4 linked regions of the Homo sapiens genome follow. The protein of the gene in region 3 interacts with the protein of the main gene of each other region in a pairwise test. Each region holds a gene or a part of one and is shown on either strand. Other genes may lie near its edges.

Region 1 (7,027 bases), on a different chromosome or scaffold from region 3:
TTCTTGTTTATGCAGGCAGGCCCTGGAAAGTTCATCAGCTAGTTCATTCTGTGGTTAGGAACTTAGACTTAACTCTCCTACAGGTTATGACATTACAACTCACAGACGTGAATCCTTAAATCTATAAAGAATGAAAAAGGCTGGGCATGGTGGCTCACCCCTGTAATCCCAGCACTTTGGGAGGCCAAGGCAGGCAGATCACAAGGTCAGGAGATCAAGACCATTCTGGCCAACATGGTGAAACCCTGTCTCTACTAAAAATACAAAAATTAGCCAGGCATGGTGGCACACCTGTAGTCTCAGCTACTCGGGAGGCTGAGGCAGAAGAATCGCTTGAACGTGGGAGGTAGAGGTTGTGGTGAGCCAAGATCATGCCACTGCACTCTAGCCTGGTGACAGAGCGAGACTCCGTCTCAAAAAAAAAAAAAAAAAAAAAAGAATGAGAAAACAGTAGATGCTCCAAATAGTAAGGCTCCGACAGCCTTGGCGTTTGTTTCCTCCAGTTAAATTATCATTGAGATACATAGAGTTTCTTTTGGTTGTTTAGATTTAACCAGAATGTTTGTTTTTGTTGTTGTTGTTTTTGTTTTGTTTTTGAGACAGGATCTCACTCTGTTGCCCAGGCTGGAGTGTAGTGGTGTGATGTGATCTTGGATCACTGCAGCCTCGACCTCCCAGGCTCAAACGAGCCTCCCACCTCAGCCTCCTGAGTAACTGGGACTACAGGTGCATGCCACCACGCCCTGCTAATTTTTGTATTTTTCTGTAGAGATGGGGTTTCGCCATGTTGCCCAGGCCGGTCGCAAACTCCTGGGCTCAAGCGATCTGCCCATCTCAGCCTCCCAGAGTGTTGGGATTACAGGCATGAGCCACTCTGCCCAGCCTAAACAGAATATTTGACTATGTTATTTAAAACAAAGTTTTGGTAGAAATGTCTTTTTTTAATAGGGTAACTCAGCCAGTGGTTTAGGGACAAATCTCTAGAGATGCAGTCCTTACCTTTCCTTTGCCAGGCTTAAAACTTTGAGCTGGGCCTGGCACGGTGGCTCACACCTGTAATCCCAGCACTTTGGGAGGCCGAGGCAGGCGGATCACGAGATCAGGAGATTGAGACCATCCTGGCTAACACAGTGAAACCCCGTCTCTACTAAAAATACAAAAAATTAGCTGGGCATGGTGGTGGGCACCTGTAGTCCCAGCTACTCGGGAGGCTGAGGCAGGAGAATGGCGTGAACCTGGGAGGCGGAGCTTGCAGTGAGCCGAGGTCGCGCCACTGCACTCTCCAGCCTGGGCAACAGAGCGAGACTCCGTCTCAAAAAAAAAAAACCAAACAAACAAAAAAAAACTTTGAGCTGGATGGGGGCCTCAGTTCCTGCTATTTTTTCCCACCTCACCCTCAATGGTATACCCTTTGGTTCCCACCTTACCTTTACTCACCTCCATTCCCAGTTTTCAGTCTGGAAGCCCTACTCCATTCTCCTTTCTTACAAATGGTATTTCAATGCCATCACCATCATTCCTCCTTATACAATAGTGGGATTCGAGACTTCCAGATTCTAATCCCTTTTACCTCACCTGCTTAGTGCGTTTGATGTACCAAAGTGTAAAATCAGCACCTTGAGTTTCTGCAAACTCTTTCAGTGGAATTCAGTAGGCATCAAAGAATGGACATTTACTGAAATGTCTACTCTTTGCAGCAGGCTATTATTGCTAGGCCCTGGGAACCATCAAATGAGTATGGAATCCCTGTTCCCCAGGAGCTGGAAATCTTGTGGCAAGGACAGATAGCGCACACAGTGAATTGTAATCCAGAGGTTTTGCTGAAATGGAAGTACAAACAAAGGACTGTCAGCACAACTGATTCTGCTAGGGCAAGAGGAAGATGGGGTGCTAAGAAGAACTTCATTAAGGAAAAAGCATTTGTTCAGGACTTTAAAGGTTGATAAGCATGGGTAGAGTATGGACCAGGAAGGGGAAAAATGGATTCCAGTGTGGAAGAATGAAAATGGAGAGTGTGTTTGGAGGTGACATGTACTCTGTGGCAGAAGCTTTGTGTGTGGATGTGTAGAGGAGTGTGGAAGTGGGGGAGGCTCGAAAGAGAGGCTGTTGTCACATGGTCAGGAGGCCTTTCATCCATTCATCTAAGGCTGCACCATCCAGTAGAACCTTCTGTGATGCTGGAAATGATCTCTCTCTGTGCCGTCCAATTCAGTAGCCACTTAGCCAGGTGGCTGCTGAGCATTTGAAATGTGGCTAGGATAACTGAGGAACTGAATTTTGAAACATATTTAATTTTGAAACATATTTGTTTATTTACATATTTTTATTTTTTAGAGACAGAATCTTGCTCTGTTGCCCATAGGGTTTCTGTCGCTGGAATGCAGTGGTGTAGTCGTAGCTCACTGCAGCTTTGAACTCCTGGGCTCAAGCGATCCTTCTGCCTCAGCCTCCCAAGGAGCTAGGATTGTTGGTGCATGCCACCACACCTGGCCCTATATTTAATTTTTTTTCTTTTTTTTTTCTCTCTAATAAAAAAAATTTTTTTTTAAGTAGAGATGAGTGTCTCACCATGTTGCCCAGGTGGGTCTAGAACTCCTTGGGCTCAAGTGATCCTTCCACCTTGGCCTCCCAAAGTGTTTGGATTACAGGCGTGAGCCACCATGCCTGGCCTAATTTTTTTTAATTAAAAAAATTTTTTTATAGAGCAGAAGTCTCACTATATTGCCCAGTCTGGTCTTGAACTCCTTGGCTCAAGTGATTTTCCTGCCTCAGCCTCCCAAAGTGCTGGGATTGCAGGCGTGAGCCACTGTTCCTGGCCCTCCATATTTATTTATTTATTTATTTATTTTTTGAGATGGAGTTTCATTCTTGTTGCCCAGGCTGGAGTGCAATGGTGCAGTCTTGGCTCACTGCCACCTCTGACTCCCGGGTTCAAGGGATTCTCATGCCTCAGCCTCCCAAATAGCTGGGATTACAAGCACTGCCACCATGCCTGGGTAATTTTTTTTGTATTTTTTTTGTAGATACGGGGTTTCACCATGTTGGCCAGGCTGGTCTCGAACTCCTGACCTCAGATGATCTGCCCGCCTTGGCCTCTCAAAGTGTTGGGATTACAGGCGTTAGCGACCACGCCTGGCTGCCCATATTTAATTTTTTATATCAACTTTATTGAGATATAATCAGGTCAGGCGCAGTGGTTCACACCTGTAATCCCAGCACTTTGGGAGGCTGAGGCGGGTGGATCATTTGAGGTCAGGAGTTCTAGACCAGCGTGGCCAACATGGTGAAACCTCATCTCTACCAAAAATAGAAAAATTAGCGTGCACCTGTAATCCCAGCTACTCAGGAGGCTGAGGCAGGAGAATCGCTTGAGCCCCATAGGCAGAGGCTGCAGCGAGCCTAGATCACGCCACTGCACTCCAGTCTGGGCGATAGAGTGAGACCCTGTCTCAAAAAAAGAAAAAAAAACTTTATTGAGGTAATTTACATGCCAAAAAAATTCACCCTTTTAAAGTATACATAAATTGGTGTTTCAGTATAGTCACAGAATTTGTGACTATCAGTGCTAATTTTAGCATATTTTCTTTTTTTTTTTCTTTTGAAACGGTGTCTTGCTCCGTCGCCCAGGTTGGAGTGCAAACTCCGCCTCCAGAGTTCAAGCGCTTCTCCTGCCTCAGCCTCCTGAGTAGCTGGGACTACAGGTGCCCACCACCACACCTGGCTAATTTTTTGTATTTTTAGTACAGATGGGGTTTCACTGTGTTAGCCAGGATGGTCTCGATCTCCTGACCTTGTGATCCGCCCGCCTCAGCCTCCCAAAGTTCTAGAATTACAGGTGTGAGCCACCACGCCCGGCCCAATTTTAGCATATTTTCTTTACCCCAGAAAGAAACCCCATAGCCATTAGCAGTCACTTCCCTTTCTAGCCCCTTTTCTTCCATCCCTTAGTGACCACTGATCTACTTGCCATTCCTATGGATTTGCCTGTTCTAGACATTTCATATAAAGTGAATGGTACACTATGTGGTCTTTTGTGGCTTATTTCACTTACCATAAGGTTTTCCTTTCTTTTTTTGAGACAGAGTCTCACTCTGTCACCCAGGCTGGAGTGCAGTGGTGTGATCTTGGCTCACTGCAACCTCTGCCTCCTGGGTTCAAGTGATTCTCCTGTCTCAGCCTCCTGAGTAGCTGGGACTACAGGTATGCACCACCATGCCTAGCTAACTTTTGTATTTTTTAGTAGAGATGGGGTTTTGCCATGTTGGCCAGGCTGTTCTCGAACTCCTGACCTCAGGCGATCTGCCCGACTTGGCCTCCCAAAGTGCTGAGATTACAGGTGTGTGCCACTGCGCCCAATCAAGGTTTTCTTTTTTCTTTCCTTTTTTTTTTTTTGAGACACGATCTCCCTCTGTTGCCCAGGCTGAAGTGCAGTGGTGCAATCTCAGCTCACTGCAATCTCCACCTCAAGCAAACCTCCTATCTCAGCCCTCCTAGTAGCTGGAGCTACAGGTGCGCACCCACACCCAGTTAATTTTTGTATTTTTTGTAGAGATGGAGTTTCACCACGTTGGCCAGGCTGGTCTTGAACTCCTGGGCACAAGCGATCTGCTCGCCTTGGCCTCTCAAAGTGTTGGGATTACAGGTGTGAGCCACCACACCTGGCCAATGTGATATTTACTTAAAATAATTTAAACTAAATAGCTGTATGTAGATAGTGACTACATATTGGAGGATACTGATCTAACAACTTTCCAGAGTAGGGATTTGGTACAGTCAAACCTAGTGGTCATGTCATGAGCTCTGGGGTCAGACCACCTGAGTTCCAAATTTGATACTGTCCTTGAGCAAGTTACATAACCTCTTTGTGCCTCAGCTTCCTCATCTATAAAATGGGAATTGTACTAGTATGGGGTTGTCATGAGGTGAAAAGACATAATATATGTAAAGCTCTTGGAATATATTCAATGATTAATAAGTATAATAATAATTATCACCATTATTGCTGTTGGCAGTCCTCAGAGTGTATTATGGTTTGTAAGTTAGTGTCAACTCCCAGACTAACTTCAGGAACTGAGATCTGGAGATTTTGCAAGTGACTTTCTTTATTCTGTTCTATGTCTGAATTTAGGTTTGGGGAGAATTTTGTCCTTCCAGAGGACATTAGTCACTGTCACAGCTTGGGAGTGCCACTGGTATCTAGTGAGTGGAGGCCAGGGATGCTGCTTAGCATCCTGGAATGCTCAGGACAGCCCCCCACGACAAAGACTTTTCCAGCCCAGAATGTCAGTGGTCCCGAGGTGGAGAAATCCTGGCTTAGTGGGACCTGCTGTGGCCTTACCAGGTCCTGTTCATTATTGCAGAGCTTGGGGTCAGCTTTCTTGCAAGAACAACATAGCATTGTGAAGTGTATGAAATAACCTTGGACAGCGAGTTTTCGGTGGGACTTGAAGCTTTGATATGCCGAATCTCACTGCCTTTCAGGTTTGTTGATGTATGTGGTCAGTCAGCTCTGTCTTGTCAGCCAACATCAAACATTTTGAAAACACGTTTTTTTGATTTGTGATTCAGTAAGCAGGTGAGCCTCCCTTATTTACCCCATCTTGAACTTTCTTTCCTCTTGCTTTGATCTGCTCTGTGGTTTTATTTTAAGAACATGATTTGCTTTGCTCCCAGTGAAAGCCTGATGGTCAGTTATTTTCTGTGTCCTCCATAGTCCTGCAACCAATCTGAACTGAGTCATGTTCTTAGAACTTTTTCCTTTCCCCATTCCAAGTCCTGGCTCTACTCTGATTTTCGGCCTCAGGAATGTTGGTTTGCTCTCACGCACGCTTAGCCTGTGGAAATCATTAGGTGTTCTCAGGGTCTGTCACAAGAGAAGCTAAGTGTCCTGGACCTCAGGGTGGCTGTGTCTTGAGGAGAGTCCTCTTTTCAGGCCCCCAAGAGGCAGCTCATCTGTGGATGTTTGAGCCGTCGGGTCTTTGTTGTTGTCATGGGTATCTTGCATGGCTTTGGATTCAAAACTTCACCTGTCTTTTGAATGCCTGTCCACCCATACCCTTGAGAGGACCTCTTGCTTTCCTGCCATCAGCTATTAGGACTAACACTTGGGAGATCATCAGGTTCCAGGTGGTAGAATGGCTTGGGTTGGTTCCTTGCTCCTACTACCCCATTCATGGACACCACTGGGGCCGCTGATCCCACTGTAACTGCACAGCCAGTAAGAGCAGCCACTGAGTGATGGATTATCCTGCCTCCGCCTCTCAAGTAGCTAGGACTACAGGCACACGCTACAGCAACAGAGGGTCTTGGTGGCTTCTCTCCTTGGTGGCATACAGTAGACAGGCTGAGGTCTGGTCTGTGGGCACCTCCCTTTTGAAACATCCTTTTCAGTTCCACTAGGTGGAGCAAAGTCTGGCCTGAAAACTGCATGCTATGTGGAAACCACAAAGAAACACAAGTAAATCCAGAACATTGCAACCTGGGAGGTCAAGAAGGGGGAAACAAATCCCATCCTATTGAATTTTAAGGCTTGTTGATACAATTCTGAGCTTTCCTGATCTGGGGATTAAGTAGGTCATCCTCTCAGACTTGCAGATCACCCGTCTTGCATGGTCTGGGTTTTTGGGATATGCTTGCTTACTCAGTTACATTCCCATAGCTCTGATTTATTTACTTTTGGTTTTCTCCTTTCCACACTTTCTTCTGTGGGAAATCAGAGGAGTTGTTTTTCTTCTGCTCCTGGTGCTGTCGTCTTCACAGTGCCAAAGCTAAGTTTTGATTCAAGATCTCAGGTGTTTAAAATAATTTAACTTAAACATTTTTGGAAGAGGTAAAAATAAATGTAAGATGTTACAAGAATATCTGTGGCTTGGAAGGGTGGGTCCTAGAATGGAGAGTTACAAAAACATGTCTGTTTTGATTTTTAAATATCTAGCAAGACAAATGTTATGTTGTAACACTTTTATTACACATTCTTTCAGATCAGAGGCATGCATTCATGGAGAAAATATTCGTATTTTTCAAAATT
Region 2 (6,851 bases), on a different chromosome or scaffold from region 3:
CGAACCCTCAAACTTCTATAGACAGGATGCAGGCCAAGAAAATTACTCAGCTGCAAACACAGACTACCTTTTATGGAAAATGAAAGATGACTCAGGAAGTAGAACTAAGAGACCAAGAGCCATGGATTATTATTCTCAGGCCTTGCTTCAAGGGCTTTCCTCTAAAGCTAGAGACCGAGAACTGAAGCCCAGGTCGCCTCTGCTCTGGATCCCCAAATCCATGTGAGGGATCTGTCTTTTCCCAACCCCACCCTCCCCGTCTGGCATGGCCTCAAGGGCAGAACCTAGCATCTTAGCTCTTCCTTCTCCTCTCCAAATCTCCCAGCCCAGAAAGAATGTGCTGCTGTTGTTTTTTTCTCTTCTTAATTTTTTTTAGAGACAGGATTTTACTCTGTTGCCCAGGCTGGAGTGTAGTGATGTGATCATAGCTCACTGCAGTCTCGATCTCCTGGGCTCAAATGATTCTCCTGACCCAACCTCTTGCGTAGCTGGGACTACAGGCAGGCACCACCATGCCCAGCTAATTTTTTTAATTTTGTAGAGACAGGGTCTTACTATGTTGCCCAGGCTCGTCTCAAACTCCTAGCCTCAAGCGATCCTCCTGCCTTGGCCTCCCAAAGCATTGGGGTGAGCCACTGCGCCCAGCCCTGTTTTGTTTTTTCCACATGTTTTCTCAACTAGATATACAACTACTTTTCCAAACTATTCCAAGCCTCTCCCCTTCAGGCATTAGAACCCAAGAATTAAAGAAATAAAGTTTCGGCCGGGCGTGGTGGCTCACACCTGTAATCCCAGCACTTTGGGAGGCAGAGGCAGGCGGATCACAAGGTCAGGAGATCGAGACCATCCTGGCTAACACAGTGAAACCCCGTTTCTACTAAAACTACAAAAATTAGCCAGGCGTGGTGGCGGGTGCCTGTAGTCCCAGCTACTCGGGAGGCTGAGGCAGAAGAGTGGCGTGAACCTGGGAGGTGGAGCTTGCAGTGAGCCGAGATTGTGCCATTGTACTCCAGCCTGGGCGACAGAGCGAGACTCCGTCTCAAAAAAAAAAAAAAAAAAAGGGGTATCTAGAACTAGAAATACCATTTGGCCCAGCCATCCCTTTACTGGGTATATACCCAAAGGATTATAAATCATGCTGCTATAAAGACACAGGCACACGTATGTTTATTACGGCAATATTCACAATAGCAAAGACTTGGAACTAATCCAAATGTCCAACAATGATAGACTGGGTTAAGAAAATGTGGCACATATACACCATGGAATACTATGCAGCCATAAAAAATGATGAGTTCATGTCCTTTGTAGGGGACATGGATGAAGCTGGAAACCATCATTCTCAGCAAACTATCGCAAGGACAAAAAACCAAACACCACATTTTCTCACTCATAGATGGGAATTGAACAATGAGAACACATGGACACAGGAAGGGGAACATCACACACCGGGAACCGTTGTAGGGTGGGAGGAGGGGGGAGGGATAGCATTAGGAGATATACCTAATGCTAAATGATGAGTTAATGGGTGCAGCACACCAACATGGCACATGTATACATATGTAACAAACCTGCACGTTGTGCACATGTACCCTAAAACTTAAAGTATAATAATAATAAAATTTTTTAAGAAAGAAATAAAGTTTCTATTTTATTCCTTTCTTTGAACCAACAGGGACAAGATCTAGATTGAAGAGAGAAAAGGGAGGGTTGACAAAGGAATTTCAAAGCAATACTGCAAAATCCTATTCACCACAAGTATCATTATTATTCCCATTTTACACATAAGGAAACTGAAGCTTAGTGAGATTAAGAAGCTGGAGTTCTTGGAGCAGAGCGCTGGATTTAGAGCCAGAAGCCAAGGTTGGAACTTAGGCATCTGCTACTGGTGTCCTAACTCTCCCTTCCTCTCCCTTACTTGGGCAATCCTGGTGTCGGGCCCACCTCAGCCTCCCTGAGGCCTGATGGTCTGGCTGTGCCACCATGCAGCTCCAATCCCAGTACTGCCCCAGGAGAAATCCCTGCCTCCTCCTCCAGTGAGTCTTGGTGATCCCTCTCAGACCTTCCTCCATGCAGTCCAGTGTCAGGTGGAAGCACTGGGGCTCCTGTGAAGCATCAGCTCCACATCTGCCTGGCTTGTGACCTGGGGCAAGTTTCTTCTTCTGCCTGAGCCTCAGCTTCCTGGTGTGTAAATTGGGGATTATAACAGGGATTCAGTATATATTCACTGAGGACCTGCTCTGGCAGGCAATGCATTAAAAGCTGGGGGTACACAAGGGAGTGAGGCTGTCCCAGGGTCCCCGTGCACACCCAGCACAATGGACGCCTCTGGTGGCATCAGTGAGGGCAGCTATCCTGTGTCACAGGGTTTGTGTGACCTGCAGCCAGCAGCCCAGCGGTCTGGTGGTGTCCTGCTTGGTGGAAGTCTCGCAGGGAGATTCTCTGTGACTAACGAGTGTCTTTTCCCCTAAAGGATGTGCCGTCGGCTGCTTTCTTGTTTCATCTAGCCGCTGGGCCCCAGAACAGTTGGCAAAGCAGTTGGTATCTTTGGCTATTTTTAGGTGGAGGAGTTAGCGGGGTGGATATAGTAGGGCCCCAGGGGAGTCTGGTAGATGGGGAACTTCAGGTGCAACAAGTTTGTGGGGGTGGGAGTGGCAGCGGCTCCCTCTCAGGAATGTTTAGGCAAACTAAACATGCATCCTTCATAATGGAAGTCAAAAGCCACCTCCTCTGTGCAGTCTTCCTTGATTTTCTCATTAAACACCCCCACCGCCCCCCACAAGACCAAAGACTTGATCTGGAACTATAATCCAGCCTTTATAGTTCCAGACCAAGAGTACTGAGCAATAGGGACCTTACCTGATGCAGACAAGGTTTCTCTTCTGCACCTCTGAGGCTCCATCCCTAGTCAGAACGACAAGGTACGAAGTTAGGAGTTGAGACTGAAGCCACTCATACAGCTGAGATTCTCTCTTGGCCCGTTTCTAGCAAACTACAACAAGCAAGTCACTTTTGTAAATCTATTTCCTCATCTGTAAAATGGGCAACTATCGTGCCTGCCTCCCAGGATTAAAGTAAAGGGTTTAATTTGCTCAAAGCACAGCGCACAGCGCCTAACGTAGACTGATAGATCTCTCGCAAGCCCCAGGCCCAGAAGGGGCGGTGCTCCCCCAAAACTCTCTTTCCTTTGCAGCACAGCGGGGGGTGTGTGCATCCTGGCGGAGGGGAGGGGACTGAGGGGAGGGGAATGGGGGGTGCCCGAGCTGGGCTGGAAGACAGGTCTGCGACTCTGGTCAACTGCAGCTGCTTTCCCCGGCCTCCACCGCTGCCGCACACCCCCTTTGCCTTTAGCATTTTCCTCCTCTCCTCTAATTGCGTGGCGTCCCCAGATGGTAGGCGGGGTGTCGGAGCTGGGGGTGCGTAGTCCCGGGCCTAAGGCTAGGGAAGGGGCCTCCAGCGCCGTGTGAGGGCCCTGACCGACAGTGGGGAGGGGCGCCCATGTCTCTGGGAGAACCCCGGAGTCCCCGGAAATGGAGGCGGAGTTTGGGGAGTCTGAAATGGGGGAGGGGTCGTGTAGACTACGGGGGAGTCCTGAGCCGGCTAGGAGGGGCAAGGGAGTCCCTCAGACGGAGTGGAGAGCGGGGCTTCCCTGGTCAGAGGGCGGTACCAGGGGAAGGGCGTGGTCTCCTGCGAAGGGGCGGAGCTCCGCCTACGAAGGCTGAGCATCGCCGCAAGAGGCGGAGTCTGGAGCGAGGCGGAGCTCTCCTAGGGGCGGGGAAAATGGGGCGGGGCCTCCGGACAGGGGGCGGAGCGTGGCTGTTCGCGCTCATCCCCCTCCCCCGGCCCTGGGTGTCCCCGTGACGAGGCAGCGCGGAGCCGCCGCGGGCCGGGCCCATCCCGCCGCAGCGGCCCGGGGCCGAGCAGGGGCTAGGCGGGGAGGGAGCGGCGCCCAGCGGGGCCCGGAGCGTGGCCAGGTGAGGCCGCCGGGGCGGAGGGGGCGGGGGCTGCGCCAGGCGGGCCCCGGCGGGCGCGGGGGGCGTGTTTGCGTGTCTGGGGGTGGTGGAGGGAGTGGGTCCGAGGGCGGGCGCCGGTGGCTGCTGCGCGCCCGCGCGTCCCTGCGGTCGCGGGTGCGGGTGGTCTCTGCGCCGTCCGGGCCCGGGGCGTGCGGGGCCGTGCACGCGCGCGTGTTGTGCGGAGGGGCCGCCGGGTGTGGACCTGCGTAGGTGCTGGGCCGCGGTTCCCGTTCTGCCCGCCCGGGGCGCAGGGCGCGGGCCTGCCCCGGCGCGGTCCCTCTGGCGCGGGGATGTTTTCCAAACGGGCTGCCTGCGGGAGACGGCTGTGCTGCAGCCCGAGCTCGAGGGGGGAGCGCCGCCTCCGCAGGCCTCCTGAGACCCGGGCGGCTGGGGACGCAGACAGACACCTGAGGGAGGGAAGAGCGCGCACCCAGGAGGAGTCTATTGGCCTACCCGCAGGGGGAGGCCGAGATGGGGAGACTGAGGCAGATGGTGAGGCGGAGGCGGGCAGACAGGCAGAGATGGGGAATGGGGGGAGAGAGACGGCAAAAAGGACAGCGGCTGGGAGGACAGAGAGTCATTGAGAAAGCAGATGGACAGACAGAGGCCTAGACCTCAAAGGGGCAAGAAAGATTCAGATGGACAGGTAGATTCAAAGAACCTGTCAGAGAGGCTAAATCAGAGGTCCAGAGGCTAAGAGCTATAAGCAGGAACTGAGTCTGAGATGAGGGGTAACGGCCCCCAACTCATTGGGTGCCCCGCTTTGAAGCACATCCCAGACTGGGATCTTGGCCAAAAAGCAGCCTCTGGCCACCCCAAGTTGGTCCATCTCTTTGGCACCACTGAATATCCTGACTCTCTTCACTGTGCCACCCCTCCCTGGTATCCCAGCAACCTCGGGCAGTTTAGAGGAGGCAGAGGGGAAGTGGTTGCCATAGCAGTAGAGGCGGTGAAAGGTCACCCTTGCCTTAGCCTAGGCGGCCCTGCAGCAGGCTGCAGCTGGAATTGAGCCGGGCTGGGGTGGGAACCTACAAAGCTCTTTTCTCTCCCACTCTGCCCAGAATGGTGCTGGAAGGAAACCCTGAAGTGGGGTCCCCCCGAACCTCAGACCTCCAGCACCGGGGGAACAAGGGCTCTTGCGTTCTCTCCTCTCCCGGTGAAGATGCGCAGCCAGGCGAGGAGCCCATCAAGTATGGTGAACTCATCGTCCTGGGGTGAGCATCCCTGGCCTAGAAGGGGTGAAGCACCAGACACCCACCCAACGCAGCCAGAACAAGGGCCCGACCCCTCCTCCCCCCACATAGGGCCTTCAGCTGTTTGTCCCTCCTCACCTTCCTAGCTGAAAGACAAAATTGACCAAACCCACCTCAATTCATAATTATTATTTTATCTTCCCATTTTTCACAAAGTACTGTGACAACTCTAACCACCCAACTTCCTGATCAGATGAGAAAAATGTTAACACCAGCTGCCTTTCCTAAAGCACCTAGTGTGTGTGGTGTGGGGTGAAGAACTCTGGTTCTCCAGCAAAACTGCTTGGTTCAAATCCTGCCTCTGCAAGTTGCTGAACTTCCCTGTGCCTCTGTTTCCCCTGTTTTGCAAATGGGGATGATAATAATCCCTTCCTCAGAGGGTTGTTGGAAGAAATGAATGAGGTGATTTCTGTAAAGTACATAGAACAGCGCCTAGCACATATCGAGTGTTCTGGGAGGCAGGCCTGTGCCAAGCCCTTTCATGGACATTATTTCATTTCAATCTTCACAAAGATGCTGTGAGGAAGGAGGTGAGGAAACCGAGGCTCAGAGAGGGGAAGTGACTGGCCCAAGGGCACACAGCTGGTAAGTGGCAGGGCTGGGATTTGGACCCAGGTCTTTCTTACTCTAGGTCTAGTGCGCTTTCACTAAGCCACAGCTGACCCTCACACTACAGATGAGAAAGCCAAGGCCAGGAGAGAGGAAGCAACGTGATCTGGCGGCCTGGCCAACCTCATCCCTTCCTGGTCTTTGCCTGACCAGGATCCCTGCACCATCCACTCAGATCTTTCCCCAGGGACAGACCCTCTTCCTCCTCCCCCATCTGGATCTCCTTTTGGCCTCTCTTTGCCATCAGTCCTAAAGAAACTATTTGATAAGCTATATTATCATTAAGATTTTTTTTTAATGGCTGTTTGTTGACACATGCTTTAAAAAAAAAAAAAGCAGTAATAGTGAACACTTATCAAGGGCTTCCTATAAATATGCCAAACTCTGTGCCAAGCGCTTTTAAATGCTTTGTCTCATTTAGTTCTCAAAATGAACCTGCGAGGTAGGTCCTAAAAAATTAGCTCCATTTTACAGAGGTCATGTGATAAGTGGAAGAGCCAGATTTAAGCCAGGCCCATCTGTGTCCCAAGCCTGTGTCCTGAACTGTCCCACCTCAAGACCTGCCCCCCATGTGTGAGAAGAGCTCACAAGGGCAAAAGTGATGTCTCCCTTGGGAGAAGCTGCCTTGGAAAAGCAGCTGCTTCATATCCCAAAGGCAGGACTGGCTTTCCAGCCCAAGGCAAGGCCACTAATGTGGGAGGCTGCAGACCCATGGGTATGGACCCTCCTGTCAGCCCCCTTGGGGAGCAGAGTCCACACTGGCTGCATATCAGAGCTGGCTGGAGGGCACTGAAAATACACATTGACAGGCCCTCTCCAAGCCTACAGAATCACAGTCGCAGTGGGTGGGACCAGGGAATCTGTTTTTTTTTTTTGTTTTTTTTTTTTTGAGACAGAGTCTTGCTCTGTCACCCAGGCTGGAGTACAGTGGCACGATATCAGTTCACTGCAACCTCCACCTCCTGGGTTCAAGTGA
Region 3 (7,109 bases):
TCACCGCGAAGATCTGCAGCTTCACTCCTGAAGCCAGCGAGACCATGAGCCCACCGGGAGGAACGAACAACTCCAGACGTGCTGCCTTAAGAGCTGTAACACTCACCGCGAGGGTCTGCAGCTTCACTCCTGAGCCAGCGAGACCACGAACCCACCAGAAGGAAGAAACTCCAGACACATCCGAAACATCAGAAGGAACAAACTCCAGATGCGCCACCTTAAGAGCTGTAGCACTCACCGCGAGGGTCCACGGCCTCATTCTTGAAGTCAGTGAGACCAAGAACCCACCAATTCCGGACACACTAGGATTATAGGCACGAGGCCACCATGCCTGGCCTGTATTTTTTTTTTTTCCTCTGAGACAGGGTCTCACTCTGTCAGCCAGGCTGGAGTGCAGTGGCGCTATCTCGCTGGAGTTGTTTTTTTTTGTTTGTTTTTGTTTTTGAGACGGAGTCTCGCACTGTATCCCGGGCTGGAGTGCCATGGCACGATCTGGGTTTACTGCATCCTCCACCTTCCGGGTTCATGAGATTCTCCTGCCTCAACCTCCCGAGAAGCTGGGATTACTGGCGCACAGTACCACGCCCGGGAAATTTTTTTGTATTTTTAGTAGACAGGTTTCACTATGTTGGCCAGGCGGGTCTCAAACTCCTAACCTCATGATCCACCTGCCTTGGCTTCCCAGAGTGCTGGGATTACAGGCGTGAGCCACCAAGCCCGGCCGGATTTTTTTATTTAGATAAAGTTCACATGTCCTAAGATTCACCACATTAAACTGTACAATTCACTGGTTTTTAGCATATTTACAAAGATGTGCAATCATCACCACTGTATAATACCCCGGCATTTTAATCACCTCAGTGTGTTTTTGTAATTGGCTGGTATAAATATTTAGAATCTAAGATTAAGGCGGGGCGTGGTGGCTCAGGCCTGTAATCCCAGCACTTTGGAAGGCAGATCACTTTGAAGTCAGGAGTTTGAGACCAACCTGGCCAACAAGGTGAAACCTTGTCTCTAGTAAAAATACCAAAAAATTAGCTGGGCGTGGTGGCGTACACCTGTAATCCCAGTTACTTGGCAGGCTGAAGCACGGGAATTGCTTGAATCCAGGAGGCAGAGGTTGCAGTGAGCTGAGATTGTACCACTGCACTCCAGCCTGAGCGAGAGAGCACGACTCTGTCTCAAAAAAAAGAAAAAAAAAAAAGAATGTAAGATTAAAGTGATTACCTCCAGTTTTCACCATCACTTAACTAATGCATGCATTTATTGAAACATAACTTCCTATTTTAGCTAAATTGTTGTACCAAAAATTTATGTGATATAAAACACGTATTCATATAAATTTTACTTAAGTATTCAATGAACACACAGATAACCTAAATTCTATTTTTTTTTTTTTGAGACAGTCTGGCTCTGTTGTCCAGGCTAGAGTGCAATGTCTCAATCTCAGCTCACTGCAACCTCCCCCTCCCAGTTTCAAGCAATTCTGCCTCAGCCTCCCGAGTAGCTGGGATTACAGGTAGTGCCACCACGCCCAGGTAATTTTTCTATTTTTTAGGAGGGTTTTTGCCAGCTCAGGATTTTGGTCAGGCTGGTCTCGAACTCCTGATCTCAAGTGATCAGCCCACCTTGGCCTCCCAAAGTGCTGGGATTACAGACGTGAGCCACCGCACCCGGCCCAGAAAACCTAAATTCTTATTCACCTCTCCTTACATTTTTTTTCTGGTTTAAAATAGCTGTTTATAAAAAACAACTCCATTAAAAAGTGGGGAAAGGACATGAACAGACACTTCTCAAAAGAAGGCATACATGCGGCCAACAAACACGGAAAAAAGCTCAATATCACTGATAATTCGAGAAATGCAAATCAAAACCACATGAGATACCACCTCACACTAGTCAGAATGGTGATTGTTAAAAAGTCAAAAAACAAAAGATGCTGGCGAGGTTGTGGAGAAAAAGGAACGCTCTTACACTATTTGTGGGGGTGTAAATTAGTTCAACCATTGTGGAAGACAGAGTGGCAATTCCTCAAAGCCCTAGAGGCCGAAATACCATTAGACCAAGCAATCTCATTACTGGGTATATAGCCTCTAAAATATAAACCATTCTGTTATAAAGATACATGCACACATATGCTCACTGCAGCACTATTCACAATAGCAAAGACGTGGAATCAACCCAAATGCTCATCAATGATAGACTGGATAAACAAAATGTGGTACATACACACCATGGAATACCATGCAGCCATAAAAAGGAACAACATCATATCCTTTGCAGGGACATGGATGGAGCCGAAAGCCATTATTCTCAGCAAAGTAACGCAGGAGCAGAAAACCAAATACCGCATGTTACCACTTATAAGTGGGAGCTGAGTGGTGAGAACACATGGACACATGCGGGGGAACAACACACACTGGGGGCTGTCTGACGGCTGGGGGTGGGAGGAGAGAGAGCATCAGGAAGAACAGCTAATGGATGCTGGGCTTAATACCTAGGTGATGGGATGATCTGCGCAGCAAACCACCATGGCACACAGTTTACCTATGTAACAAACCTGCATATCCTGCGCATGCACCCCTGAACTTAAAAGTCGGGGGGAAAAAAAAGAGAGGTAGCAATTATCACCTTAATGAATTCCTTTCTTCACTTCTCATATTGCCCCTCATTTTCCCTAATTTCCCTCATTTTTTTCATTTATAATATATATATATTTTGAGACGGAGTCTCGCTCTGTCACCCAGGCTGGAGTGCGGTTGGCGCGATCTCAGCTCACGGCAAGCTCCGCCTTCCGGGTTCACGCCATTCTCCTGCCTCAGCCTCCGGAGTAGCTGGGACTACAGGCGCCCGCCACCACGGGCGGCTAATTTTTTTTTTTTTTTGTATTTTTAGTAGAGACGGAGTTTCACCATATTGGCCAGGCTGGTCTCGAATTCCTGACCTCGTGATCCACCCGCCTCAGCCTCCCAAAGTGCTGGGATTACAGGCGTGAGCCACCGCGCCCGGCCTCATAATATTTATTTCCTAAATAAGCTAACTTGATGACTACTTACAAGTATTCTAAAGTGAGCTTGGCTTCTCAGTATTCGTCATTGTGGCTTTCATATTATCTTTTCACTTCTCTTTACTATACTTTTGCATAATAGCTGTCTAACAAGTTTTTATGGAAATAAATTTATTGCAAACAAAAAAGGAAATAGCTGTTTATGATAAAATTTGTATAGAAATGCAAGGAGAAAAACAAATCACTCAACTGCTTTTCAACACGACGAAAAGTGGGTTAAGGTCTCAAAATTCTTTAAATTTTAAAATACCGATTTATCGGTAATCGAGGTTTTTTTGGATCTGCTTCTTTAAGAAAAAAAAAAACAAAACACACACACACAAACCAGCGAACTTCAGACGCTCTTACGACACCTAGCTATATTCACTGGGAACGCAATCTAACGTCACCAAGGCCCACCTCCCGGGCCCTAGAAATCGCTCTCTGGGAACAAGCTGGGGACTTTGATTTTGCTAGCCCTGCCCCTCTGAGCCCTTCACCAAACTTCCGCGCGGGGGCGCCCGCCCCACCTCCCGCCGGGGCTCAGCACGCGGCCTTCTCCCAGCCAAGAGCCCCGTCATAGGTGGGCGCCGACCCCGAGCCGATCTCGCTTTATTAAATTACAGAAATCGGTATTCAAAAAAAAAAAAAAAAAAGGGCGGGGAGGACACTCCCTCTTCTCTGTTCCCACACCCTAGCTGATTCCCAGGTTTCGGGAAACTCCACAGGAAACGGAAATGGTCTCTCCCAGGCCAGCGCGCGCGCCGGGTTGCATCACCCGCCTCGCACGGGCCGGCGGGGCGGGGGTTTGGTGGCTGCCCTCAGTATTGCCTGCACAAATATCTACCAGGTCTGCGACGAATAGCTCCAGCAACTTCGCACCGTGTTTTCCACTCAGCCTACCGACAGGCACTGTGCAGATTCAAGCGGAGAGATGTCCAAGCAGTGAGGCCGCTGCTGCACCGGCCATCCTGAGCCCCTACTCGGCCTTCCCGTCTCCGCTTCCCCGCCCCGCACTAGGACCCCTGCAGATGATCAGGCGGCAGCCGGGGTGATTTCCTTCCTCTTTTGGCAACATGGCGGGCGGAGAAGCTGGAGTGACTCTAGGGCAGCCGCATCTTTCGCGTCAGGATCTCACCACCTTGGTGAGGTTTTGCTTGGGGAGGATGCAGAGTGAGCTCAGGAGTGGAGGTGACCGAGCCTCCCGGTGGTATTGGGACTAGTCAGTGTCGGGAGCATGGGTCAGGAGCCTGGGTCAGGAGGGAGACCTGGAACTGGGCGCCCTAAGCCATGCTCGCGCCGCCTGTACCCAGGCCAGTCCACGATCTGGGCGCAGGCGTGTACGGTCGTGGGACTTCTAGCTTCTGGAGGGTTCGGCTGGAAAGTCTTGATGTTGATTGTCATGGTTTCAGCCTCTGAACGTCTGGGAAGGGGGTGTCCTGTCTGCATTACTTTTAGTGCTAATGTTCCCAAGATTGGGGGGATCTCTGACTTCCAGATATCCCCTAATAGTTGAGTGGAGGTGTAGTCTGTTGTGTAATGATGAAGGGCTCTTAACAGCTTCCCAGCCATAGGAGTACAAAGTTACTGATAGGGAAAAGGAGCTTTAGAAGTAGTGGAAAGCTGTGCAGATGGTGGCAAGATGTAGATAGCAAACGTAAAGTCAAAGGAAAAGTTCTCATTTGTTTTACGTGCAGTGTTTTAAAATATATTTCATTGCAGGATGTTACCAAGTTGACGCCACTTTCACACGAAGTTATCAGCAGACAAGCCACAATTAACATAGGTAAGAGTAACTTAAGAGACCTAACCTTGGTCTCCAACAATTAATTTTAACCTCACTTTTTGTGTGATTACTTGAATAGTATGAGGATTCAGATATTCAAGAAATAGATACTGAGTCCTTGTGAATAAAGCATCTGCTACATTTGCGGTGCAGGGGGAGCACAAAGAATGCTGCCCACATGTAGCTTACAGACTCGGTAAGAAGAAAAAATGGAGACATAAGAAAAGTTTAATAGCATAAGGCAGTATGTAGTCATATGTAGCAGAAGTTTAAGGAAGAGGTGAAAAATGTGGCTGTACTTGACACACAGGATTATTTCAAGGGCAGAATTTATGAAAGTTTTATTTGATGTACAAGCTGTGATTAAATAGAAGGTTTTTTTTCTTAATTGGCACCTAGAACTTTAGAGGAGAAGTTACGTTGACTGAGTGTAAATTTTGGACATTTTGAGTTTGTACAAACAGCACAGTTTGTACGAAAGTAAGTTAAAAAGTACAGAAGTAAGTTAAAAAGTAAGACTAGTTTTTAACCTAGTTAAAAAGTAAGACTCCACCATGAGGCTATTAAAGTTACAGTATTACAGTCTGGAGCTTTAATTTATTAATGCAAACAAAGCCCAAATAAGCCTACAGGCCTTGAACTACTGCCCCTGCATTAAAAATTTTGGTTGAGGTGACCTTGGAGCATAACCTAACCTCCGAACAACCTATGCTAAGACTATACCAGTTAAAGCAAATTACTGTGCATATATTGACCCAATAATTTGATCAACGGAACAAGTTGCAATTAAACTTAGGTTGTTTCCTTGTTTGTTCACAGATCCCTTTTTGTTGTGTCAGGGCCCATCATACCTGTTTAATCTGGAAATGCTGGAAGGTTCCTTAATATATAAAGTTCTGGCCGGGTGCAGTGGCTTATGCTTGTAATCCCAGCCCTTTGGGAGGCCAAGGCAGGTGGATTGCTTGAGCCCAGGAGTTGGAGACCACCTGGGCAACGTGGCCAAACCCCATCTCTACAAAAAATACAAAAAATTAGCTGTGCGTGGTGGTGCATGCCTGCAGTCCCAGCTACTAAGGAGGCCGAGGTCGGAGGATTGCTCAAGCCCAGGTGGTTGAGGTTGCAGTGAGCTGTGATCAGGGCATTGCATTCCAGCCTGGGCAGCAGCAGGAGACCCTGTCTGTCCCAGAGTATATTTTTTAAGTAAAGCTGTTAGTTACATGGAAGTTTCTCTTAAGTCCTATATGAGAACACGTTTCTAGTAGGAAGGGGTATGGAGGAGGAAAAATTGAAGTCACTGTTGGTTTTATGTTGATATTTACAGCAAGTTATGGCTTTGGCTTTAATTGTATTTATTTATTTATTTATTTATTTGCGACGGAGTCTCGCTCTGTTGCCAGGCTGGAGTGCAGTGGCACGATCTCGGCTCACTGCAGCCTCCACCTCCTGGGTTCAAGTGATTCTTTTGCCTCAGCCTCCCCAGTAGCTGGGACTACAGGCATGCGCCACCACGCCCAGCTAATTTTTGTATTTTTAGTAGAGATGGGGTTTCACCATGTTGGCCAGGATGGTCTTGCTCTCTTGACCTTGTGATCCACCCACCTCGGCCTCCCAAAGTGCTGGGATTACTGGCGTGAGCCACCGTGTCCAGCTGGCTTTGGGTTTTCTACTCTTAACACTATTTGAAAAAATATTTGGTATGTAATTAAATACACATGAATTAATTTTTTGAACTTTGTCCATAGGTACAATTGGTCATGTAGCTCATGGGAAATCCACAGTCGTCAAAGCTATTTCTGGAGTTCATACTGTCAGGTTCAAAAATGAACTAGAAAGAAATATTACAATCAAGCTTGGATATGCTAATGCTAAGGTAAGCTGTGTACTGTGGAACGAGAAACTAACTTTAATTGTTGTGCAGATAACAAATCAAAATCTTTTTTTATTGAAATTTTAGATTTATAAGCTTGATGACCCAAGTTGCCCTCGGCCAGAATGTTATAGATCTTGTGGGAGCAGTACACCTGACGAGTTTCCTACGGACATTCCAGGGACCAAAGGGAACTTCAAATTAGTCAGGTGACCTCTCTTTTGCTACAAACACTACACTTTATATTTTATTGTCTTCTGTTTTGTGCTTTTTGAAATATCGAGGTGTTAAACGGTGAACCTAATGGCTAAATGGTTTTGTTGTTTTTCCATTGTTTATGTTTTTATGGGAAATCTGAAAAGTCAAGCATCTAAACCTAAGTTAAAATACTTACATGCAATTTCTCCAAA
Region 4 (6,913 bases), on a different chromosome or scaffold from region 3:
TTTGTACTCCATTGTAAGAACAATATAAGTAATTTTCTGTTGGTGAACATTTAAAATGTTCTAGTTTGGAGCTATTATGAATAAAGCTATAGTGAACATTCACGTATAAGTTTTTTGTGTACACATATATTTCATTTCTATTGGGTAAATTCCTAGGGAGTGGAATTACTAGGTTTTAGGGTAGGAATGTGTTTAACATTATGAAACTTCCCCTCATACAGCTTTTTTTTTTTTTTTTGAGACACTTTCTCTCTGTCACCCAGGCTGGAGTGCAGTGGTGCAATCATGGTTCCCTGAGCCTCGATCTCCCAGACTCAAGTGATCCTCCCACCTTAGCCTCCCTAGTAGCTGGGACCACAGGCATGCACCACCATGCCTGACTAATTTTTTTTTATTTTTGTAGAAATGGGATCTCCTTATATTGCCCAGGCTGGTCTCAAACTCCTGTGCTCAAGCCATTCTCCTGCCTTGGCCTCCCAAAGTGCTGGGATTTCAGGCAGGATCCACCATGCCTGGCTGAGCCCCTACTATATATATATATATATATATACACACACACACACACACACACACACATATATATACACACACATATATACGTATATATACGTATATATGTGTGTGTATATATATGTGTGTATATATGTGTGTGTATATATATGTGTGTGTGTGTGTGTGTGTGTGTGTATATATATATTATTTTTTTTTTTTTTTGAGACAGAGTCTCACTCTGTTGCCCGGCTGGAGTGCAGTGGCGCGATCTCGTCTCACTGCAAGCTCCGCCTCCCGAGTTCACGTCATTCTCCTGCTTCAGCCTCCCAAGTAGCTGGGACTACAGGCGCCCGCCACCTCGCCTGGCTAATTTTTTGTAGTTTTAGTAGAGACAGGGTTTCACCGGGTTAGCCAGGATGGTCTCAATCTCCTGACCTCATGATCCGCCTGCCTCAGCCTCCCAAAGTGCTGGTATTACAAGCGTGAGCCACTGCTCCCAGCCGAGCCCTAGATATTTTTTTAAAAAATATGGATTCATGGTCTTCAGTTCCAAGAAAGAATTCTGCGTCAGTCTGAGGTTCCTAGGCATGTATAATATGTAGTTTTTAAAAACTCCCCAGAACCAATGGTCTAAATTATATTGGTGGCGGTGGAAAGGAAGTTATTTTGGTTTGGTTTTCTTTTCCACCACAAAAGCATATAAATGTAAATAGTTTTTTTCCCTGCCTAGCTACAACCTTTCTCTGAACATTTTCCCCAACTCTAGCCATTAGCCCCAGTATTGAAATAGTCTCTCTTTTTAGTTTCTCTGGTGAAATGCAAAGCTCTGGTTTTTCTGCTCTTGCTTAAAGTGATGTAAAAGCTCAGGGAGCTCCTTGAAGCAGCCCTTAGAATTGCTAAGACGAGTAAACAAAAACAGATCTCTAGGGTGGAAAAGAACTTTGGACAGAATAGCAGTTGAGGGTGTGTGGCCCTGTGTACACCGGTAGGATTTTGTCTGGTGCTTTTACCTTTTTTCCCTTACTATTCTACCTAGCAGCAAGAAATAGTCAACTGTGTTCTGGCTGCTGCCAATGTCTACATTAAACAGCTGCCTCTGAGCATCCAACCTAGTGCCAGCCTAAATGGCTGCATATCACTAGAGAAGAAGCCTCTAGTTTCTACGCAGAGAAACTGAGACACAGGAATGGGAAGGGAGTCACTTAATGGATTAGGGACTGGTTGAGCTGGGACCAGAACCCAGGTGGCCTGGCTCCCAGCCCAGCTGACCACACTGCTACCCACACAGCCTGGGCTGACCAAAGACAAGCAGCCCATTGAGCAACTGCACAAACAACAATGAATGATGGATGGTCAGAGCAAGAAATAGGCACAAAGCAACTGTGACCCCATCACTTCCTGGCCCCTAAATTTCCAGGCAAGCCTATAAAGTGTGGTCACTTAAATGACTTTGACCAGCAACTTGGCCCAGCTTTCAAATCTGGAGACCTTCTATGGTCACTGCCAAAAGAAAAAGTCTTATATTGAGGGTAGAGTGCCTTTGAGCTCCACGCCTGGTTCTATTAAGTCTGTGGCAGTGGCGTTAAGATTAGAAAGACATATTTATATGGGTATAACCTGGTTCTGGACAGCTGTGGTGAAACAAGGCAACTTTCAGATTTTGAGGCTCCTCTTCTACAGATCTGTGCTCCCATCTCAGATTTAACTAGCAAAGGGTAGGTGTGGTCAGTGATTGTTGTCACAATCATTCCAGAATGTTTGTGTAGAGTTACTAGAATTTCAGTCTTTTCATTCTAAAGTATTTTCATCCCTCTCACCTTTCTAGAACGACACCCTTTTCAGCTCCTTTCCAACGGCTGTAGCCAACTGATTCTACCCCAGAGTCCCAAGCGTCCACCCCCGTACCCTTCCAGTTCAGTTCAGTTAGAGTTCAGTTAGAGTCAATTTAGGTGACCAAATCTCATCCTGCTCTCCTCCTTAAATTTACCACTAAACGGTAGCTAAAATTTGTGGTCCCTTATACGCTTGAAGCCCACGCCAAATGACTTTACTTGTCAACCTCTATTGTATGTCTTGGATATGCCCCCATGCAAGGCACTCTGACTTGTTTGGCCTTAGCATGTGTGGACAGCCTTGGGCCCAGCCCTAAATTTTCGATTGTAAACCCAGGTGTATCCCTAAGAGATATAGCTGTCTAGGAAGTTTCCCTGTTTCAGGTGTCAGTTTCCTATTCTGAGCTAGACAATTCTAAAATGCCTATGCCCCACGCCTCCCCTTTAGAAACTGAGGAAGAAGTGAGGGGAAAGAAAAGTTGACTAGAGTATTTGTTTTTACATAGGCATAATGGGCACAATTAGGCAATACATTATTTTGAATATGCAGACCAGGTGCTATAATGTTAGGAATCTGAATTAAAATTTCAAATGTCTTTTGTTAGAGTATAGCCGGGGTTGGCATCGTTTTGTGTTTGTCATAAAGAGGTATTTACTAAATGGCCTTTCTTTCTTGAAACAGTCCACACAGGCCTAATACTTATTCATTCATTCAACAAATATGGAAGGTCTACTATGTGACAAGGATGGCTTATTATGTTCTCATAGCCATAGCTCATTGTCACTCAGGTAGGACACATACAAGTTCTGCTACATATAATATAGTTTTATGTATTTTACTAAATTGTAAAACCTTTGATGTCTGGGATTATGTCTTGTTAATTTTTGTATCCCCCTGTATCACTGAGAGCAGTGATACACATCACAGGGATACAATACATATTTGAATTATGCCATAATGTTTTAAAAGACATAACAAACGCACTAGAAGACATAACAAACGCACTATGTAAGTTTTTTTTACTGTTAGCAGTCTAAAGCAGATGTATCAACAGGGTATCACTGTTATGCAAGTAAATAAATATTAAGTGTTTACAGAGAAGGATATGTTCACTTCAAGAGTGAAGGAACAAGAGAAATATATAATTGGGTGGAGACTGGTGTGGAAGAAGCTAATCTTCCTCCGGTCACTCCAGAATGATTGTGTAGAGTTACTAGAATGTCAGTCTTTTCATTCTGAAGTATTTTCATCTCTCTCACCTTTCTACAACTACTCCACCCCTTTCAGCTCCTTCCCAACGGCTGTAGCCAACTGATTCTACCCCAGAGTCCTAAGAGTCCACCCTGTACTCCTCCAACTCCTGTTCAAGAATGCTCCAGACCAGGAGCTTTAGGGACTCGGGTCGGGAAAACACGGGGTCACGCGCGGGGCAAGCGCCAAACTGGCCGCAGCCTGGGGAGCGGCGCTAAAGGCGGGGCTGCGACGGGGCGGAGCGGGAGGAGGCCCGGGGGCGGCCTGGGTGTCACCACCAACCCGCTCCGGCCGGAAACTGGCGCCTGTTTCCGGCCGGACAGCAGAAAGCCACCGATCCTGAACCAGCCGCCGGAGCCGGAGTGGCGACCGGGTGCGGAGTGGGCAAAAAGCCACTGGGGGAGGCCAGTCCCGATCAGTCCTTTCTGGCTCCAGCTCCAGATCCCGTGCGGAGCAACAGCTGCGGTCGCAGTCTCCACCACCGCCTCCACCTCCATCGCCGTCGGGGGAGGGGCCGGCCGGACCCCGGGGTCACTGCCGAGGAATGAAGAGAGGCGGCCGGGCCCCGCGCTCCGCCCCGGCCTAGGGCCTTGCCCCGGGAGCCCGCGAGGGTAACGGAGCCCCCCGTCCTGACACCGTCCCCCGTCTGCTCCCGCCCCTCCCGGCTTCTCAGACTCGCAAACTCTGCTCCTCAGATCGCCACTGTCCCCTTTCTCCTTTCTGAATCTGTTTCACCCGAAGCCATCTCCCCTCGGCACTCCTTTCTCGCCCTGACTGCTCCTTGCTTCGTCCCGATCTTTCCTCCTCCCTTTCACCTGCGTCCTGCGTTCCTACCCCGCGCTCTCCAGCTCCCGGCCTCCCTTCCTGAGCTGTGCTGGCCAGTTTGGACGGTCCCCCCTTGTCAGCTAGACTTTCGGGAGGGATGGTGGAGTTTTAAGGTGATTAAGATGCAGTGTATTATCCCCACAGTAGGATAAAGTTCATTTAAAATCTCAATATAATACTAAAATGAAAAGCAAATAAGCTTATTCTTCCTATTGATAGCCAAACTAAGGTGCATACAGTAATGGAGGAAAGGCGAGAAAAAGGTGTGTGTGTGTGTTTGTGTGTGTGTGTGAGAGAGGGAGAGAGACGGAGGTTGACGGATTCTAGGGCAGTCTTAAGAACTTTAGAAAAAAGAAAAGTTGCCATGAGCCGATGGAAACTTTAGAAGCTGATGATGAGTAAGCCGGGGGCTGCGTGATCTCACTCTTCTCATAATTACTAGGTTAACGGTGTGGCTCCGGTCGGGATGGAATGGGATTTGTTTACTGGGCCGGCGTATTTTTAGCTTGTCGGCTCACAAGGACCAGCGCTCAGAGTCTCTTTCTCCCCGCTCGTGGTAGTCTTTCTTGTCTAACCTAGGTGGCTTCTCTGGGCACAATAAAGATGTAAAAATTTGAAATTAGAAACTGACTGGTGGAATTTTATGGAAGAAGTTCCCCACAAACTTTTCAGGCAGCTTTTCACGAATGCAAAGCCTAGAATTAGCAGGACGTTGACTTTTATTTTCCTTATCTTTTTATACGTACTACGTAACGCTTTGCTTAGAAATTCACATGCTGCTAATTTTTCAGTCTTTGGCCTCTAGTACTGTATATTTAGGAGATTTTTGAGGAGGCTGGATCCCTTTGTCTTTCAGAATCTATTTCAAAGGTGGAAAAGGACAGAGTAGAGAAAGAGGTGGCGGTAAGACTGGCTCCAAAGAGTTGCTAACCCCTAAATATTTAAAAAAGTTTCTATGCTATGTAACTTCTGAAAACATGTAGAAAATTTTCTTCCTACTAAATGAGATTGCATTCCTGATGGGGAGAAGACTTCAGGGACGGAAGCTGGGTGGCTAGGGAGAATCAGAGGTAGTTAAATATTTGCTGTGTATAACTTACAAATACATTATGCGCAAACAATGAAGAATTAATTATACGCTTTGTCTTCATTGTTTTTCAAGTAGTTCTTTTAACGTTCAGTAACCAACCTGCTGTGCTAGTCTATTGATATTTTGAAGGCTGAACAAAACTGTAAAATAAATGAACTTGATGTTGCTCCTCTGCAGGCTGAATACCCCCGACCGTTCTAATTTCCACTATTGACCCAGCTTGCCTCAGAGCACCTCCCTGACAAAGTGGCCAGTTACTATGTACTTAGAGATTGCAAATCAATGCAAATATTAGCTCATACTAGGAATAATTAAGAAGGTAAATATGCTGAAAACATATATTCCAAAACCAAAATAGATTTTTTCGATTTTACCCTCATTTTTGATTATCACCACCTTTCTGCCAATAATTATCCGTTAACATGAATAATTTAGAATTGAACAGATATCTGCTTTGGACATTACACTTTCAAGATAGAAGGAAAGATGGAAGGAAGATAGTGCCAAACTAATTTTTTATTGTCATTGCCTTATTTGACTTATTCCTTGCTTTTAATACTGAAGACTCCCTCGGAAAAAAATGTAAAACTTTGCCAAAGCAAGAGCTGGCTATCTACTGACTTGTATAAGGCCCGGTGACTGGTAATGAATGCTAATCATTAGGTGGCCTTTAGTGGCCTTATGTTGCCAACAACTTGGAAAATTTCCCAAAGCTTTATTTGTTTAATCTTTCTTTTGAGACCCCTATTTAAAAAACGACTTAATTTGGAGACGAAAATCTAATTTTTAAAAACCACATACACCTTTCCCAGAATCTGTTGATGATCAATAATTGTTTTGATCTGTGTGAGTTGATTGGTGCCAATATTAGTGATGATATCTGGGTAAATTCTATTTATATCTGCATCTAGCAACTCCCTAAGTTGAACTGCATACTTTATTCCAGGGCATGGGGATCAAAGGGGTTGAAGAAGCCTAGGAATGAGTGGAGAGCTGCCTGGTAGTCCACCACTATTCCTAGTTCTCAGGAGGCTTTATTTGCAATTTTGAGATTCAATGTATGTAACCAAAATAAGTATTCTGATTGTTATGAGGGCACTAAGTGCCACTTGTCAAAGTTTTGGAGCTCCTGAGTATCTTAAGCATGCTAAAAGACACTGGCCATTATAGTGTGGGTGTATGTGTGTATGAGTAGCACTCTCCTTACCCTAAACACTCATCCCACCAAAGGGAAAATCCTTAAACAGCGCTTTGAAATGTGACCTCAGCAGTATCTTTCCTATGGGAACTTAGGAGCTGTGGAATAGCAGACTGTGGAATCTTTTTTGTAGCCTCTGATAAATTCAGGTAATTAAAAATTTGTGTAACTGGAAGATAGATACAGGGCAGTTTTTCTCATGAATGCCTGAATTCAGTTGACTT

The links.
Region 1: the proteins of EIF2S3 (region 3) and WBP1L interact in binary tests that used the Homo sapiens proteins (3 or more experiments, as listed by UniProt).
Region 2: the proteins of EIF2S3 (region 3) and PELI3 interact in binary tests that used the Homo sapiens proteins (3 or more experiments, as listed by UniProt).
Region 4: the proteins of EIF2S3 (region 3) and OTUD7B interact in binary tests that used the Homo sapiens proteins (3 or more experiments, as listed by UniProt).

The regions. Positions count from the first base shown.
Region 1 is NC_000010.11:102,746,944-102,753,970, forward strand, and holds part of WBP1L (WW domain binding protein 1-like isoform 1 precursor), read left to right. Parts: intron 1-7,027.
Region 2 is NC_000011.10:66,463,054-66,469,904, forward strand, and holds the start of PELI3 (E3 ubiquitin-protein ligase pellino homolog 3), read left to right. Parts: upstream 1-3,851; 5' UTR 3,852-3,974; intron 3,975-4,076; exon of another isoform or gene 4,077-4,505; intron 4,506-5,074; 5' UTR 5,075-5,075; coding exon 5,076-5,227; intron 5,228-5,779; coding exon 5,780-5,851; intron 5,852-6,851. UniProt on the Homo sapiens protein: E3 ubiquitin ligase catalyzing the covalent attachment of ubiquitin moieties onto substrate proteins. Involved in the TLR and IL-1 signaling pathways via interaction with the complex containing IRAK kinases and TRAF6.
Region 3 is NC_000023.11:24,050,847-24,057,955, forward strand, and holds the start of EIF2S3 (eukaryotic translation initiation factor 2 subunit 3), read left to right. Parts: upstream 1-4,109; 5' UTR 4,110-4,122; coding exon 4,123-4,191; intron 4,192-4,768; coding exon 4,769-4,832; intron 4,833-6,574; coding exon 6,575-6,702; intron 6,703-6,786; coding exon 6,787-6,908; intron 6,909-7,109. UniProt on the Homo sapiens protein: Member of the eIF2 complex that functions in the early steps of protein synthesis by forming a ternary complex with GTP and initiator tRNA.
Region 4 is NC_000001.11:150,007,722-150,014,634, reverse strand, and holds the start of OTUD7B (OTU domain-containing protein 7B), read left to right. Parts: upstream 1-3,908; 5' UTR 3,909-4,187; exon of another isoform or gene 4,188-6,913. UniProt on the Homo sapiens protein: Negative regulator of the non-canonical NF-kappa-B pathway that acts by mediating deubiquitination of TRAF3, an inhibitor of the NF-kappa-B pathway, thereby acting as a negative regulator of B-cell responses.